Linked DNA regions of Homo sapiens: region 2 is linked to region 1. Evidence: fine-mapped expression QTL. A gene starts in region 1. The other region holds a variant in brackets. All regions are shown on one strand. Distances are between the middles of the regions.

What was found.
Region 2: its variant is fine-mapped to the expression of RELL1 in whole blood (TOPMed, PIP above 0.99).

Annotation. Positions count from the first base shown.
Region 1 is chr4:37,681,509-37,689,843 of GRCh38, forward strand. RELL1 (RELT like 1) reads right to left here and starts at 4,868. Exons shown (of 7, transcript NM_001085400.2): 1 at 4,692-4,868. The coding sequence starts at 4,779. RefSeq lists an enhancer at 1,266-1,315 and silencers at 4,407-5,076, 5,257-5,566.
Region 2 is chr4:37,608,406-37,616,740 of GRCh38, forward strand. RELL1 (RELT like 1) reads right to left here. Exons shown (of 7, transcript NM_001085400.2): 7 at 2,229-4,937. Among named protein-coding and RNA genes, the nearest start is that of RELL1, 74 kb to the right of the region's middle. The variant G/A (reference allele first, on the strand shown) is at 3,587.

The sequences.
Region 1 (8,335 bases):
TCTCCTTCTGTTTTTTTTTTTTTTTTTTTTTTTTTTTTGAGACGGAGTCTTGCTCTGTCACCCAGGCTGGAGTGCAGTGGCACGATCTCAGCTCACTGCAACCTCCGCTTCCCAGGTTCGAGTGATTCTCCTGCCTCAGCCTCCCCAGTAGCTGGGACTACAGGCATGTGCCACCACATCCAACTAATTTTTGTATTTCTAGTAGAGACGGGGTTTCACCATATTGGCCAGGCTGGTCTTGAACTCCTGACCTCGTGATCTGCCCGCCTTGGCCTCCCAAAGTGCTGCGATTACAGGCGTGAGCCACTGCACCCGGCTTCCTTCTGATTTTTGACTTCAAGTCCAAGGCCCTGACTTAAGGCTTGGTGCTCTTTCCACCATAGCATCCCATGACCTTGTTACTTACTGATTCTTTACAAATATGTTAGAATAAAAAGAATTTTCTTACTCAAAAAAATAGTTTAGTAATAATAAGCATGGACTTCAAAATCAAACAGATCTGACTCAATGGACTCCATGACAAAATCCAGCTTACACATGAGTGACTTTTTCAACTTCTCTGAGGCTCAATTTCCTCATCTACAAACACAGGAATAAAATTATGTATATAACTGACAGGAAATTAATTGTAAGAATGAAATGATCTAGGTATTTAGACTACCGCCTGCACACAAACCAGGTAATAATAAAAATTGAATTCCTTTTTCCTAAAAGAGTAAAGTGTCTACAGTGTACTAACACCAAATTCTGATTTTAGTTTTTATAAATCACACCAGAATTATTAATATACCCGCTTTCAGCAGCACACCAAATCTTTACAACCACTTAAGTGTCCGAAATTATTAGGAACCACTCAACCTAATAGTTTATACCAATGACAATTTAATTTATTCTTTTTGTCAGCTTTAAATCATTTCTCTATTGTTTCAATAAGTCATTAAACTTCAACATTAGGGCCAAAGAATCATTTTTAAAGAAACAATAAAATCTGTTGTTTGTTCACTTGGGGCTTTGGTCTCTCACATTCAAATTCAACTCTTCAAATTTCCAAATAGATTCATTTCATTTCCATTTTTAGAGGGGGTAGGGGCAGGGAATTGACAGAGACTTCTCACATTTTTCATTTCCTTTTAAAATTAAATGTAGATATGGACTCCCAAGCTCCAAGGTGTGCTTTTTCAAAACTTTCCAAACACTATATATTATGTGGATGTACAGCTTCGCAGCTACCTGGCTAAGAGAGACCCCAGAATTTAATAAAGCTTATCTTTAGTTTCTAAAAAGGAGTCAGAATGCTGGAGGGAAGCCTGCAGCCCAAGGACAATGCATTTTTCATCTCACCAGCCCCAGGACCTCTTCCACCCACTCCTTACTCGAGGGCTATGCCCACTGTCTGAGAGAGAAACTAATAAACCTGAAGGTTGAGTAACCAGAGAACTTAAGGACATTAATAAGCCAAGACGTGGAAAATCATCCCTTTGGGTGCTTGTGGTATATAGTTTCGAATGCTGCTGCTAAGAGACAAGTTTAATGAGATTCTTCTACTAGGAAGGAAGTGAAAAAGGCATTGCCACTACCCACCGTGAAGCTATCTGCCCTTCTTTTCTCTACTTGACAACTTCTGATAACCACATGCTTACAATTTTATGACGTTCTAAACTATCTTAGAATCTCAGCGAGATTGCAGAGGTTGACTCATATTCTATTTTTCCTCTGCAGAGCAGTGGGGTACAGTGGAAAGGGAATGAACTTTGGAATCAAGCAGGCTGGGTTATCCCAGATAAAGATACATATAAAGGTACACACATACACAGACACCTCCTAGTGGTTCTGCTTCTCTGAATGCTGACTGGCACAGTACCTATGTGATGTTCAGCCAGTTGTTTAACCTCTCTTGCCTCAGTTGCCTTACTGGAAGTAAGTATTTCACAGGGTTATGAGCAATGAGTTTAAAAATGCCTATGAAGGCTGGGCGCGGTGGCTCACACCTGTAATCCCTGCACTTTGGGAGGTCGAGAAGGGCGGATCACTTGAGGTCAGGAGTTACAAACCAGCATAGCCAACATGGGGAAGCCCCGATTCTACTAAAAAATACAAAAATTTGCCAGGCATGGTGGCGGGCGCCTATAATCCCAGCTACTAGGGAGGCTGAGGCAGGAGAATTGCTTGAGCCTGGGAGGTGGAGGTTGTAGTGAGCTGAGATCGCACCACTGCACCTCAGCCTGGGAGTCAGAGCAAGACTCTGTCTCAAAAAACAATAAAAATAAAAATAAATAAACAAATAAAAATGCGGCCGGGCGCGGTGGCTCACGCCTGTAATCCCAGCACTTTGGGAGGCCAAGGTGGGCGGATCACGAGGTCAGGAGATGGAGACCATCCTGGCTAACACGGTGAAACCCCGTCTCTACTAAAAATATAAAAAATTAGCCAGGCATGGTGGCGGGCGCCTGTAGTCCCAGCTACTCTGGAGGCTGAGGCAGGAGAATGGCGTGAACCCGGGAGGCGGAGCTTGCAGTGAGATCGCGCCACTGCACTCCAGCCTGGGCGACAGAGCAAGACTCCGTCTCAAAAAGAAAAAAATAAATAAAAATAAAAATGCATACAAAGTACTCAACCCAAAGCCTGGCACACAGCAGGCACTCAACAGTATTTCCCATTCCTTTCCCTCTACTTCCCTATGCTCAAGGTACAAACATTAACACCATCTTTGGTTGCAAGGGGATCAGATGTTGGCTGGTCAGAGCATCTTCTCTTTACACACGCCTCAAGATACTGGCAAATTTGTGCTCTGTATCCTTTCCTTTTTAGACACCTGTTTCTTCTTCCGCATTAATTTTCATCAAAAAAAAAAAAAGGCTGTCATGCAATTAGATGAGAGCTTTCATCAGTCACATTCTAGTCCTGAGACCTGGGTGTTGCTCAGAGGTCAAACCAAACACACACCCACTCTAGGGATGGATTTCTCCTGCTGATGATGGCTAATTACATGCATCATGTGCTGAATTTTTAATAATTTTACTCCCAGATTAAACTCTTCCCCAGATTCTGTTGCAACTGACTCTAACCCTCTAATGAATGTCTCCAACCTCACATCCAAGTGGAACCTGATTATGCACCTATGTGTCCCAGCAATCAAACGCAGGATGAAAATCAAAATGAACCAGCAGGGCATGGTGGCTCATGCCTGTAATACCAGCACTTTGGGAGGCCGAGGCAGGAGGATCACTTGAGGTCGGGAGTTCGAGACCAGCCTGGCCAATATGGCAAAACCCCATCTCTACTAAAAATACAAAAATTAGCCGGGCATGGTGGCACATGCCTGTAATCCCAGCTGCTCAGAAGGCTGAGGCAGGAGAATCACTTGAACCAGAGAGCTGGAGGTTGCAGTGAGCCGAGGTTGTGCCACTGCACTCCAGTCTGGGTGACAAAATGAGCCCCTGTATCAAAATAAGGAAAAGAAAAAAAAAATTGTCCCATCCAGTAAAACATGTCACTAGCTGCCATTTCCCCAGGTGGATGGCTAACGGAAATACGGGCCTGCTAAAAAGACTCAGGAGACAATATTATCCATCTCCTTCCCTTCCAACCTGCTCTGGTTTCTATGAAAAAGTGAAGGCCAAACTGCTAAGTCAGTGTAAAAGTTGTAAGCGACTGAAATGTTCTCAGGAGGAAGAGTTTATGGATGTTTATGGAGGAGACAGTCACTGTTGAAAGGCTTCCAGTTGCTTATTATTTGGGCCTGAGGAGGAACCACCGCTGAAATCAAGCTTGGAAGAGCTTGCTGACGTCAGATTCCCAGCTGTAGTAACCCCAAATGGCCAAGTAAGTATGTTTTTTTTTTAACTGCAGCTGTTAGGTGGCAATTAAGAGGGGAAGCGGTGGTAAGGAATCCCTAGTGTCTGTAATTATAAAAGCAAGGATGTGACATAGGACTTCCATAAAACTTACACCTCCTCTTAAGATTGATTTCAATTAAAAACTGCTTCATCGTTGGTGACACTTTAGCATCTCTGTTGGTGGCTTCCTGCCCTGACCACACAAGGTTCCTTTCGTGACGACAGGAATCAACAAAAAGAAGAAAAAAATGTAAGTTTACCAACGCGCCTTCCCTTTTTCCGAGCCTGATTTATACAGGATATATGGGAAGAAATGTGGACTCCTTGACCTGTTACAAGAATCCATCAACCACCCAAATAAATGGAAACGTGGAAAGAGATTCAAAGTCCTCCAGGTTTTAGGATATTTTAAGGTATTTAAAAGGGAGAAGGAGGCGCCGACAGCGCACCCGGTGCTCTGTGTCACGATCTTCCGCTCGCGGCGCCTTTGAGGACAAGGGCGGCGGGAAACGGGTCCGCGGGGTTCCGAGGCGAGCGGCCGTGGAGGAAGCGCCCCCGAAGAAGGCCTGGTCCCTACGCCCCGCACTGCCCAGCGCTGGGGAACACAGATCCTCGGAGGAGGCCCCAGGGAGGGAAGGCGGGAGCGGGGCCCGCGGGAGGGGAGGGACGGGAGCCGTTGCCACGCACCGCGCCCTGCCCGGACCGCCGCGGGACAGCCAGTTGTTCAGTGCCGGGATCCCGCGGCTGTGCCAGAAAGCAGGACGCCGCGGGGCTGCCGTCCCGACCCCTCGCTTCCTTCCGCGCTCCCGGGACCGGGCTCAGCACCCGGCGCCCCGGCTACGACCGGACACTCACCCGGAGCCACCAGCGGCGAACTCACGGCGCCTCCCACGAAGACAGCAGCGGCTAGGACGGCGGACCCCGGGAGTGCCCGCGGAGCCATCGCCGCGTCGCTTCGCCCTCCTCCCCCAGGGCGCCGCGTCCCGCGCTCGGGAAGGCAGAGCCGCTCCGGAGCCGGCGGGCTGATCGAGTGGCTGGGCTGGGCCCCAGGGAGCGGCGAACCCCGCCCCGCCATTGCCCCGCCCCACGCCACACCCACCTCGGCTCGGTCCCGCCTCTCCCCGCGCGCCCCGGGCTCCACCTAAGCCGGCACGAGGTCCACTCATGGCTCCGCCCCCGACTCCCCGCCCACCTCAGCCTGATCCCGCCTCTCCCTGCCATTCCCGCTTCCTTTCCAAACCCCGCAGCAGCCTCAGCGGCGTAGCTAGGCCATGGACACGCCCTCTTTCTCCACCCACCTCAGCTTGGCCCCGCCTCTCCCTACCGAGCCCCGGACTCCACCTAAGAAGGCACGTGGCCCATCCATGGCCCCGCCCTTTTCCCCACCCACAGCTCAGCCCGACCCCTCCTCTCCCGCTTCCTTTCCAAACCCAGCAGCAGCCTTGGCGGCGCAGTTAGGCTATAGCCCCGCCCTTGCGCCCTGCCCACCGTGGCCCGGCCGTGCCTCTACTTGCCAGGCCCGCTTCCTTTCCAAGCCGGGCCGGGATTACGCGGGAGCCCGGGGCGGGGGGAGGGTCGCCCGGGTGCAACCTCCCTCGGTCGCTGGGACTAGGCGGGCGTGGGAAGAGAAAGAGGGAGCGCGCCCCGAGAAGCACTGGACAGTCAGAAGCGGCCAGCACTGGAGTGAGCACAGGCTTTTTTCGCTGTTGGCATGTCTATCCACTAGCATTCCCCTCGGTTGCAGATCTAGGGAGTGATGCTGTGCTGGATGTCACGTTCTGTTGTTTGGAAATTAGCAGAAAAGATAACTTAAATTTCTTCCTCTGTTTGTTTGCATTTAAGCTGCTCCTATTGGGGAAAATACCTCTATGCATTTTCAGGAACAACTTGCCTTTTTTTTTTAATCGTGTGCTTGTATTGCACCTTGCGCATACTCCCGCAAAGTAGGTCTTTCAATGCCCAGACGCTTATTATCTCCTCACATCCTCACATCAGCTCTGCGAGGTGACTATTAGAGGCCAGGGAGTAAACCCACGATGTCTGGGCCACCATGATAAATTGTAATTATCTCATTGTCATTGTGTTTGCTCGCTGCTGTGCCCTCAGCGCCTGGATGGAGGACAGACAGCACACGCTAAGAGGTCAGAAGTGTTTTCTGAAGTTGAATCATCTTCACAAGCATTAATAGGACTCAGAGGCTCTCTCTGAATAGTTCCTTTTTACTGCCCTGTAGAGACTGTTGTTACTGGGCCATCAAGCATTTGCTTGAAGGAAATTAGGGCAGGACTTGAGCAAATACTCAACACCAGCAAGAAGAGGGGGTGCATGGAGGCTGTGGGTTTTCACAGGATGGGTCTCATCCTTGAGGTGACTGATAACCTCTAGTTTTCAGAGGACTATTTATTCTCTCACCGAGTCCTCCACGCAGTCTGCTGGACTATTATTACAAACATTGCATTGATGTGGGAATTGCCAGTGACAGAAGCTCAGGCCACTACAGTACAGATGGCTGAGGCTGAAGGATGGAGCCCCTGCCCTTTGAAGCCCAAGGAGGGCACTGCGCGTCCTGCGCTCAGTTGGCAGCGCATCCTACAGTCTGGCAGTCTTAGCAGGCAGCCTTTGCTAGTTTTATATCAACATAAACATTGAGAATGTGTGCGGAGGAAAGCGATCCATGTGGATTTCTAACTAAAACAGGAGAGAATCCCGGACCTAGAAATTAAACTATAAATTAGAAGTTGTAGCCAGAACCAGCTATAAAATTTGCAGGGCACAATGCAAAATGAAAAGGCAGGGCCTTCTGTTCAAAAATCGTTAAGAATTTCAAGATGGCAACAACACAACATTAAATCGATTGTGGAGCCCTCCTAAACACACAGTTGCACAGGTCACACACTTATAAAGCCAGCTCTGGTTTTGTAAGTTAGAATGTAACAAAATGCTTGAATCAAGAAATCTAATCAAAATGTAAAATGTCATTTCAAAATTGAATCATGTTTCACTCTTTTCCCACAGATTGGACTTAGTATTAAAAAGATGGGATCGTTTTTGGCTGGGCGCAGTAGCTCAAGCCTGTAATCCCAGCACTTTGGGAGGCCGAAGCAGGCAGATCACGAGGTCAGGAGATCGTAGACCATCCTGGCTAACACGGTGAAACCCCATCTGTACTAAAAATACAAAAAAGTAGCCAGGCGTGGTGGCGGGCGCCTGTAGTCCCAGCTACTCGGGAGGCTGAGGCAGGAGAATGGCGTGAACCCGGGAGGCGGAACTTGCAGTGAGCCGAGATTGTGCCACTGCACTGCAGCCTGGGCAACAGAGCGAGACTCCGTCTCAAAAGAAAAAAAGAAAAAAAAAAAAGAAAGACGGGATCATTTTTAACAACACATTTGAATTGTATATCTGTTATGGCTCTTCAAATATAAAAATCTAGTACTTAAGCCTTACCCATTATCTACCAGGCCCTTTGTTTTACAGATGAGAGATGGTTAAGTGATCTGCCTGACATATCTACTATGAGCCAGGGTTGAAACCCAGGGCTCTGAAATTTCTCTTCCTAAACTTTCCATAACACCTGCTTGACACACTCTCTATAAATGTCTTACTTTCACGTACCCCGTATACATGCATTTGTATGTCTTGTTAAAGGAATGAAGGAAGGGTAGGAGGAAGAGAGGGGGAGGGACGGAGGAAAGTGAAGAAGGGAAGGAGAGAGGAAAGAAAGAAAATCAAGCTTAAATTATTTTCCATATCCTTAACCCTACAGATTTATTCATACAATTTAAATAGCTTCTACATATGTATATCTAAAAATCCACTGTTTTATTTTAAAAGTAAGAACCCCAATGTAATGGAACTTCTATTCTCTATTATGAAGGGAATGTCATATTTCTTCTGAGGACATAAAATGGAAATCTTAAAACTAAGTTGTATTTCCATTTTTTCAGAAACAAAAGTAGAGTTTTAATAATTCTTAAGAATAACTGTCATTAATTAAAAACAATAATCCTCATTCTGCCCTTAGATTTAGCCCAATCCTATGGTGGGAACTCTTTTTGTATTCTTTCATCAATTCCTCACAATGATTTTATATTTAGGGAATCATTGTTAACACTCCTCACTTCAAAGCTGAGGGATTAGGGCATTTACCTGAGTCACATGGCCTCTCCCTGGCACCACCAGGATGCAAATCCAGGATCAGCTCCCTTGGGCCCACACTTGCAACCTCCTCTTGCACTATTCTGCCTCTGAAATGCAGAACTCCAGCCAACTAGCTCCTCTTTTGCAATCTAAAGTATTGTTCTCATATTCCTTCATTGCATGTTTAACCTAGCCTTTTTGAACTCTGTTTCAACAATTGCTTACATATTTTTCCTCAGTGAGAATAATTTATTGATTGATGGGAATGGATTAAAAATCAGAGTGTATAGGATCAAATTTACAAACATATACAATGTGATGTCCTTTCTGATTTTCATTGTTTTCAGTTTCTCTGTAAGGAT
Region 2 (8,335 bases), 73 kb before region 1:
ACGAATGATAAGAAAGTGCAACAGCCTTATTGCTGATACGGAGACAGATTCAGTGGCCTGGATAAAAAAATCAAACCAGCCACAACATTCCCTTAAGCCCAAGCCTAATACAGAGCAAGGTCCTAACTCTTCAGTTCTATAATGACTGAAAGAAGTGAGGAAGCTGCAGAAAAAAGGTAGGAAGCTGCAGAAAAAAGGTTGGAAGCCAGCAGACGTTGGTTCATAAGATTTTTAAATTTAATTTTTTTTTTTTTTTTTGAGACAGAGTCTAGCTCTGTCACCCAGGCTGGTGTGCAGTGACTGCAATCTCTATCTCCCGGATTCAAGTGATCCTTCTACTGCAGCCTCCTGAGTAGCTGAGATTACAGGTGTGCACCATTATGCCCAGCTAGTTTTTGTATTTTTAGTGGAGACAGGGTTTCGCCGTGTTGGCCAGGTTGGTCTCAAACTCCTGACCTCAAGCAATCAGCCCGCCTCAGCCTCCCAAAGTGCTGGGATTACAGGCATGAGCCACTGCACCCAGCCAGTTCATAAGGATTAACTAAAGAAACCATTGCCATTATACAGAAGTACAAAGTGAAGCAGCAAGTGCTAATTTAGAAACTGCAGTAAATAATCCAGAAAATCTAGGTAAGATCATGGATGAAGGTGGCTAAATGAAAAAACAGATTTGGAAGGAGATGACATCTAGGATTTTCATAGTTGAGAAGTCAATGCCTGGCTTCAAAACCTCAAAAGCACAGGCTCTCATTTTAGGGGCTAACATAGCTGTCAACTTTAGGTTGAAGCCAATGCTCATTTACCATCTTGAAAATCATAAGGCCCTTAAGAATTATGCTAAATCGACTCTGCCTGTAAACAGCCTAGATAACAGCACATCTGTTGACAGCATGGTTTACTGAACATTTAAAGCCCACTGTTGAGACCTACTGCTCAGAAAAAAAGATTCCATTCAAAATAATAACTCATTGACAAGGACCTGGTCAGTTACCCAAGAGCTCTTATGGAGATGTACAAAGGGAGAAATGCTTTCATGCCTGCTAACACAACATCCATTCTGCAGCCCATAGATTAATTCCCACTTTCAAGTCTAATTATTTAAGAAAGGCATTTCATAAGGCTACAGCCGCCGTAGACAGTGATTCCTCTAGTGGACCTCAGTAAAGTCAATTGAAATCTTCTGGAAGGAATTCACCATTCTAGATGCCATTAAGAACATTTTTGATTCACAGGAGGTAAAAATAGAGACATTAACAGGAGTCTGGAAGTTGATTCCAACCCTCACAGATGACTTGGAGGGGTTCAAGACTTCAGTGGAGGAAGTCACTGCAGATGTGGTGGAAACAGCAGCAGAACTAGAATCAGAAGTGAGCATGAAGATTGAACTGAATTGCTGCCATCTCATGATAAAACTTGAATAGATGAGGAATTGCTTAACAGATGATGAAAGAAAGTGGTTTCCTGAGATGGCATCTACTCCTGGTGAAGATGCTGTGAACACTGTTGAAATGACAGCAAAGGATTTAGAATATAATAATACATAAACTTAGTTGATAAAGCAGCATCAGATTTTGAGATGATTGACTCCAATTTTGAAAGATGTTCTACTGTGATAAAATGCTATCAAACAGTACTGCATGCTATAGAGAAAACTTTCATGAAAGGTGAGGTCAATCAGTGCAGCAAACTTTATCACTGTGTTATTTTAAGAAATTGCCACAGCCACCCCAACCTTCAGTAACCACCACCCTGGTCAGTAGCCTTCAACATTGAGGCAAGATCCTGCAGCAGCAAAAAGATTATGACTTGCTGAAGGCTCAGATTATCGTATTTTTTTTTAGCAATAAAAAGTATTTTAAATTAAGGTATGTATGTTTTTTGACAGAATATTATTGCATATACTTAATAGACTATAGTATAGTATAAATATAACTTTTTTATATGCAGTGGGAAACCAAAAAGCTCATGTGGCTGGCTTGATTGCAATATTTGCTTTACTGCAGTAGGCCGGGGCTGAACCCACAGTATCTCCAAAGTATGCCTGTGTTAGGGGAAGGGGTACTGCAGGAGGGGAAATCTCATGAGGAAAGTCAGCCAAGTGATCACTTGATATTTCAAGACACAAGAAATTCAGCACTGTAAAAAATTAAGCTCAATAATTATACTGCCACGACTGTATTTCCAGTGTACAAGGCGCCAATAATTGGATCACCCACAAGACAACACACTGCGTTTAACATTTTTATTTTTAACTCCGCTTTGGTAGTACAAAAGTCATAAAAGTACAAACCAGACAGTTAAAAATACACTTGACACTCGAAATGGTGAAAATTTTCCTTACAAATTTTTACATCAAGGTAGTAGCCAACTCATTGATGACACCAAAAAGTTGTCCATCATTAGTGTTTTCTAGAGAAAGTCTGTTGTGGATTCCCTCATCCTTAGAAAGGAGGAGGAGTAACACAAGACCTGTAAACATCAGTTGCTTTGGGAACACAGGAATTCTCATCAGATAGTTCAGTATAAACCAGTAAAAAGCGTATGTGTTGAAAATACTGAACGCTTAATTTTGGCAAATTTGGAAGCCTGCCAGACAAAAACCGCTCAAGTATTTATTAGAAAATATTTAAAACATACTCTTGGTATCAATACAGTTTTAAATATTTTTGAGTATTCTCTTGCCTGTTGTATTGCTATTTAAAAAAAAGTGCTCTGACTTGAATAAGATGGAAAAATAATTAAAGCTAAAGAATATCTTACATTTTATCCCCCACCATTTTGAGGGCATATTTTTAAAGCAAAAAAGTATGCTTATTTGTTTTTAATTAAAATGATTAGCCTAGACTGCACATATATTATTTACACTAATACATACCCCTAAAAGTCCTATATTGCTACTTTCTGGATCTCAGTGAAATTTATTTCCATACTGACTTTCTCCAGTCCACAGTGTATATGAATATGTACACATACAGTGTTTATTAGTTGTCAGTAAAAATTCTCATGAAACTAAATTCCCCATTTATTTAAAAGGTTAGAAATGTTTAGTTTGATGCTGGAAATAAAATCATTGAAGTCTATGTACAGTAAATACTTTGAAGTATATTTTTATGGAAATCATCTTTTGGGAGACAAATGAAAGATGTGCATTTTCCTATATGAAATAAAAGAAGTGCTCAAGGCACCCCCCAACACTGACATGGAGGCGGGTCTTGGAGACCTTGTAACTGGCCTCCCCCACAGCTCACCCCAGAGCTACCATAAATCATGTAATACTATTTATGCCTCTGGGTCCTTTCAGGTGTTTTGTAAAATGTACAGTTATAAAAAAAAAAAAGAAAAAGAAAAGTTTGCCAGGCCTAAAGGGAAAAGTAACTGGAGTGTTTTAAATAATGAGCATTAGTTACAGGATGAAAAACAGGAAATACACAAAGAAAAACATGCCAGAGGTAGGTGCAGGCCCATCTTATATGAGAAGCAGGGTTCTAGGCCGGGCGCAGTGGCTCAAGCCTGTAATCCCAGAACTTTGGGAGGCCGAGGCGGGTGGATCACGAGGTCAGGAGATCGAGACCATCTTCGCTAATGC[G/A]GTGAAACCCCGTCTCTCCTAAAAATACAAAAAAAATAAGCCAAGCGTGGTGGTGGGCACCTGTAGTCCCAGCTACTCAGGAGGCTGAGGCAGGAGAATGGCGTGAACTCAGAAGGTGGAGCTTGCAGTGAGCTGAGATCGTGCCACTGCACTCCAGCCTGGGCGACAGAGCGAGACTCCGCCTCAAAAAAAAAAAAAAAAAAAAAAAAAGAGAGAAGCAGGGTTCTTTTGTTTTGGCCTTGGGTTGTCCAAACAAATTTGTGTGTGTGTGACTTTCAACCATTTTCTCCTTTATTCAATGGATTAACCAAGAATCGCTCAGCTAAAGGTTAAAAAAAAAAAAAAAACAAAAAAAAACAAAAAACCGGGTGCAGTGGCCCACGCCTATATTCCCAGCACTTTGGGAGGCCGAGGCGGGTAGATCGCCTGAGGTCAGGAGTTCAAGACCAGCCTGACCAATATAGTGATACCCCGTCTCTACTAAAAATACAAAAATTAGTCGAGCGTGGTGGTGCATGCCTGTAATCCCAGCTACTTGGGAGGCTGAGGCAGGAGAATCGCTTGAACCTGGGGAGGTGGAGATTGAGGTGAGTGGAGATTGTGCCACTGCACTCCAGCCTAGGGGACACAGCGAGACTCTGCCTCAAAAAAAAAAAAAAAAAAACCTTCTCAAAATGTGTAAGTGCTGTAGGAGTGACATGGTGGTGGCAGGAGTTAATGCTGAATTTGTGGTCAAGGAATCCAAAGTCTAGCATCTGGTCCCATCTGACTCCATGGTCCCTTGGGGAATCAACTCCTCAGGGCTAACTAGATTATTTCCACTGAGCTTTTACCACTGAAGATTCATCTTTTATCTTTTGTAACAGCTAACCTGTATGTATCAAGATCTTCTTACAACCAGTGTCAAAATAGGATGCAGGAACTGGAAAAAGAAACACACACTCACGTGCACACATGCATACACATATACACACACACCCCTGAGCATAAGCTCAGACTGTACATGAATAGTATCACTGCACATACTCATCATAATGGAAAAACTACAGTGTGTACACCAAGGCCTGGGATTAGGGGCTGGGAAGAGTAGAGGCTGGGAGTGGTTAAGAAGATAAAAACAGCTCTTTCCTTCCCTGGAAGTATAATAAAATTTTCAACAGACTCTTTCAACCAAAACTTGTTTCAAAGCAAACTGAATTCTGTATATGGCACAGCAATAATATTCCCTTTTAGGTTTTATCCACGTGCCTGCTGACTCCATGATAGAAACTGTATAAAATATATAAAAATATTCCCAAGGCAACTTCATATAAGTTTTCAGTCTCTTAGAGCTCTTCAAGTCAAGTCATTGCTGCAAGAGAAAACAAAAAATGTAGATCTTTAACCAAGGGTAAGCATCATATCACATATTAATCTGCCTGAATATTTAAAAACACAGAAGAATTATAATCTATTCTTACCCTGTCCCATCCCATCCCACCCCATTCCTTCTACCACTGTACATTTTTTTCTAGAATTCAGGCTAAAGAAATTTAAGTAAAATATAATTAATTCCAAGAGTTCTCTCGAGATCTGGCTGTTTAAATGTATGTGCCCCTCCCCCTTTCTCTCTCTTGCTCCTGCTTTTCCCATGTGATGTGCCTTCAATAGGTGTCTTTCTAAAGCCCCACCAAAGCCAGTTCACTGGAAGTCTCTACTGACCATCCAAGACAGCACGGTTGGGATTTCAAGTAAGAACACAATGATTAAATATTCCATCTTAGGTCTTTATTGTACCTTCAGGGTTCTGGATTGTATTTTTAAGTCATTCTAACAACTGGCCCTTGTCAATGTCTACGTTTACATCACAAACAAAGGCCCATACTTGTAAAATAGCTCCCTGCTTTTCAAATGACTTTCTATAACTATCTCATTTAATGAACAGCTCTGTGACTTTTTACTTTCCTGTTTTACAGACTGGCATAACCCAGGACAGGACTAAAATTATAGAGCTCCCCGTGTATGCTGAAATACACATACCATGCAGGTGAACCCACACAAGGTTAAGGAACGAAACGTTCTCCCACCTGCCAAAATCATGTGTACCCTATAAACACTAAACAAAACCAGAGATAGACCCAGCTTGCAGAAATATGAAGAAATAGCATGAAGTTGCTAGAAGTGTTTTGAAGAACATACTTTTTACTTATTTTACAGCTTGTCCTTCAAGATATGTACCTTATTATTATCTATGTTATCCTCTTCTGTCATTTGGTCATCCATAATATTCAATGGTATATTCAATATAATATTCATTTGGTCAACCATAATATTCAATATTATATTCAATATAATATTCAAAGAGAATAGAGACAGAGCACAAGAGGAAGAATGAGGGAGACAGACAGAAAGAAAGAGATTTATTTCCCAAATGAGATGATGAGTAAAGGACCTTTATCCCCTTAGCTAAAAAGGAAACACTGTCCAATAAAACAGCATGGATCAAGTTTTTAATTCTAATGAAATACGTAATACCCTGCACTGAATTGCCAAAACTGTACAAGAACTGCAGATTTTTACTGTAAAACTGAACAAAGTCAAGTCTGGAACTACTTTCAGGTAGGTGTCAATTCATATAAACATTCTAGCAGAGGGGGAAAAAAGGTAGAAAGGCCAGAGGTAGAGACATATAAAAATGGCCCTAAAAAAAAAAAAAGGAAAAAATGAGAGGGAATTTTCCAGGCAAAACCTTAAACTAGGCCATTATCTAGAAAACAGGTATGGTATTCCACTGTTTTTATGTCTCCTCTTTATGTGCTCCCTTAGAACTAGACATTTTTGCATCAAGGAAAATAACAACGTCAAAGGTGGGGGATGTCAGGCCTAGAAACTAATGTTTCATCACAGTAACAGTTTTCACTGCAACCTAGAAACACTCCTCATTTTGAGTGTTTTGCACAGATTTGACCGGCTTTAAGAACTGGGCATGCAAGAATACAGGCTAAGCTAAAAAGGAGGGGCCTGGATTCAAATCCAGACCCCTACTCCCAGCCGTGGAACCGTGGCTGTTTCTGTAGCATTCTCTCCTAGGGTTACTGGGGATTTGACATGAGATGATCCTATGCACAACGCTTAATACGAGGAAAAGCAATCAGTATGCTCCGAAAGGTTAACTATTCTGGTCATTACCATCATCCAATTCTCTGCTCTCAACAATCACATTAGCTTTCTTCAACAGCTGCCTTCTGCAGCTGATAAAAACTGCACTATCTGTAATATCTTTGAGAGAGGAAGTAAAAAATACAAATCACTGCTTAAAGTCCTCACTGCTAATACCAGAAACTAAGCAGAAAAGGGAAAGCTAATCTTATTAAAACCCTTGCAGTTCTGGTCTCTAATTACAAACACACATTTATTAGAAGGTAGCACATTACTGGCACAACACTATGACCTTCCAGGTATTTCTTTAACCCAGAACAATAATAAAAGTGTTACAAGGTGCCTTCCATATTGTCCTGCAGCAGTCAGAAATCATGTGTGGGTGGGCACAGAGACACCAGAAAGGCTAACAGGAGTGGGTGAGAGAGGAAACACCCACCCACTCACTGTTCCCAGTTGCCATCACATGGGACCACACCACACTGAGCAAGCCTGGCCTATCTCTCTTCGGGAGAAATTTTGTGATGACAGTTTACACAAGTGAGTACTCAAGCTGGAAAAAATTAAGCGAAGTTCCATTACATGGAAAACAGAATTCAGAAATCCCAAAGTGTAACCATTTTGCTTATAAAACAAGACTGATGGATAAAAATTAAGAACCGCCCAGAAGATTTATCTGGAACAAAGGAAGAGGTTGTCTTTTTCTTTAGAGTTTATTGCTTATGACATAATCTTATAAAGATAAAGCCATAATCCTCTCATTATACTATGGGTCCACGGAAGCTGCCATATGTCTCTGATTAGGATATACATACAAATATCTATGCCTTGTTAAAAAGGATTCTCTAGAAAAAAAAAAGAAATTGATCCCTTTAAAAATTAGAAACATGTTATAAGAAACTAGGAGCCTAAGCGGATTAATGAACAGTAAATGCTAAAATCTCTAAGTGTAGGATGTTAAGGAAGAAAAAGTCTATCTGATTAATAATAACAGCACTGGCATTTGCAGAGCACTTTCTCTGTGCCAGGTACTGTCATGCTAAGCACTCTAGGGTCATTAACTCAATCTTCCCGATGACTCCATAAGTCAATGATTCCTATTTTCATAGGAGGAAACTGAGGCTTCCAGGTTCAATAATTTACCAAAGGCCACACAATTAGTAACGGGAAAGTAGGAAATCCATCCCAGGCAGTAAGACCTGGAAGACCACAAAGCTACCTCCATGCTGCACTGCTATCCAGTCACCCCGGACACACCCACAGCATCACTGGAATCCTCTGGTACCCTCGCTTCTCTGCTCCCCACCTGTGTGGCAGGCAACAGAAAGGAAATGCAGAAACTAGAAATGCTGCCAGGGTCTCTCTCAGGGGAAATCACTGTGGTTGCATGAACAGTTAAATGATGCTAAAAACCTATACTTTAAAGGGGCCCAGTCCCTGGGAAGATCAAAAGTATACACCTACACAACACTGAATTCTGATCTCATTCTAAGACAAGGCTATGGAACCACACAGTCGGATTAATAATTCTCTTGACCACTTTTAAATAAAATAAATAGAGAACGTTGTTTATAGAGCTACATGACAGCAATATTAACACTGAAGTCCCGG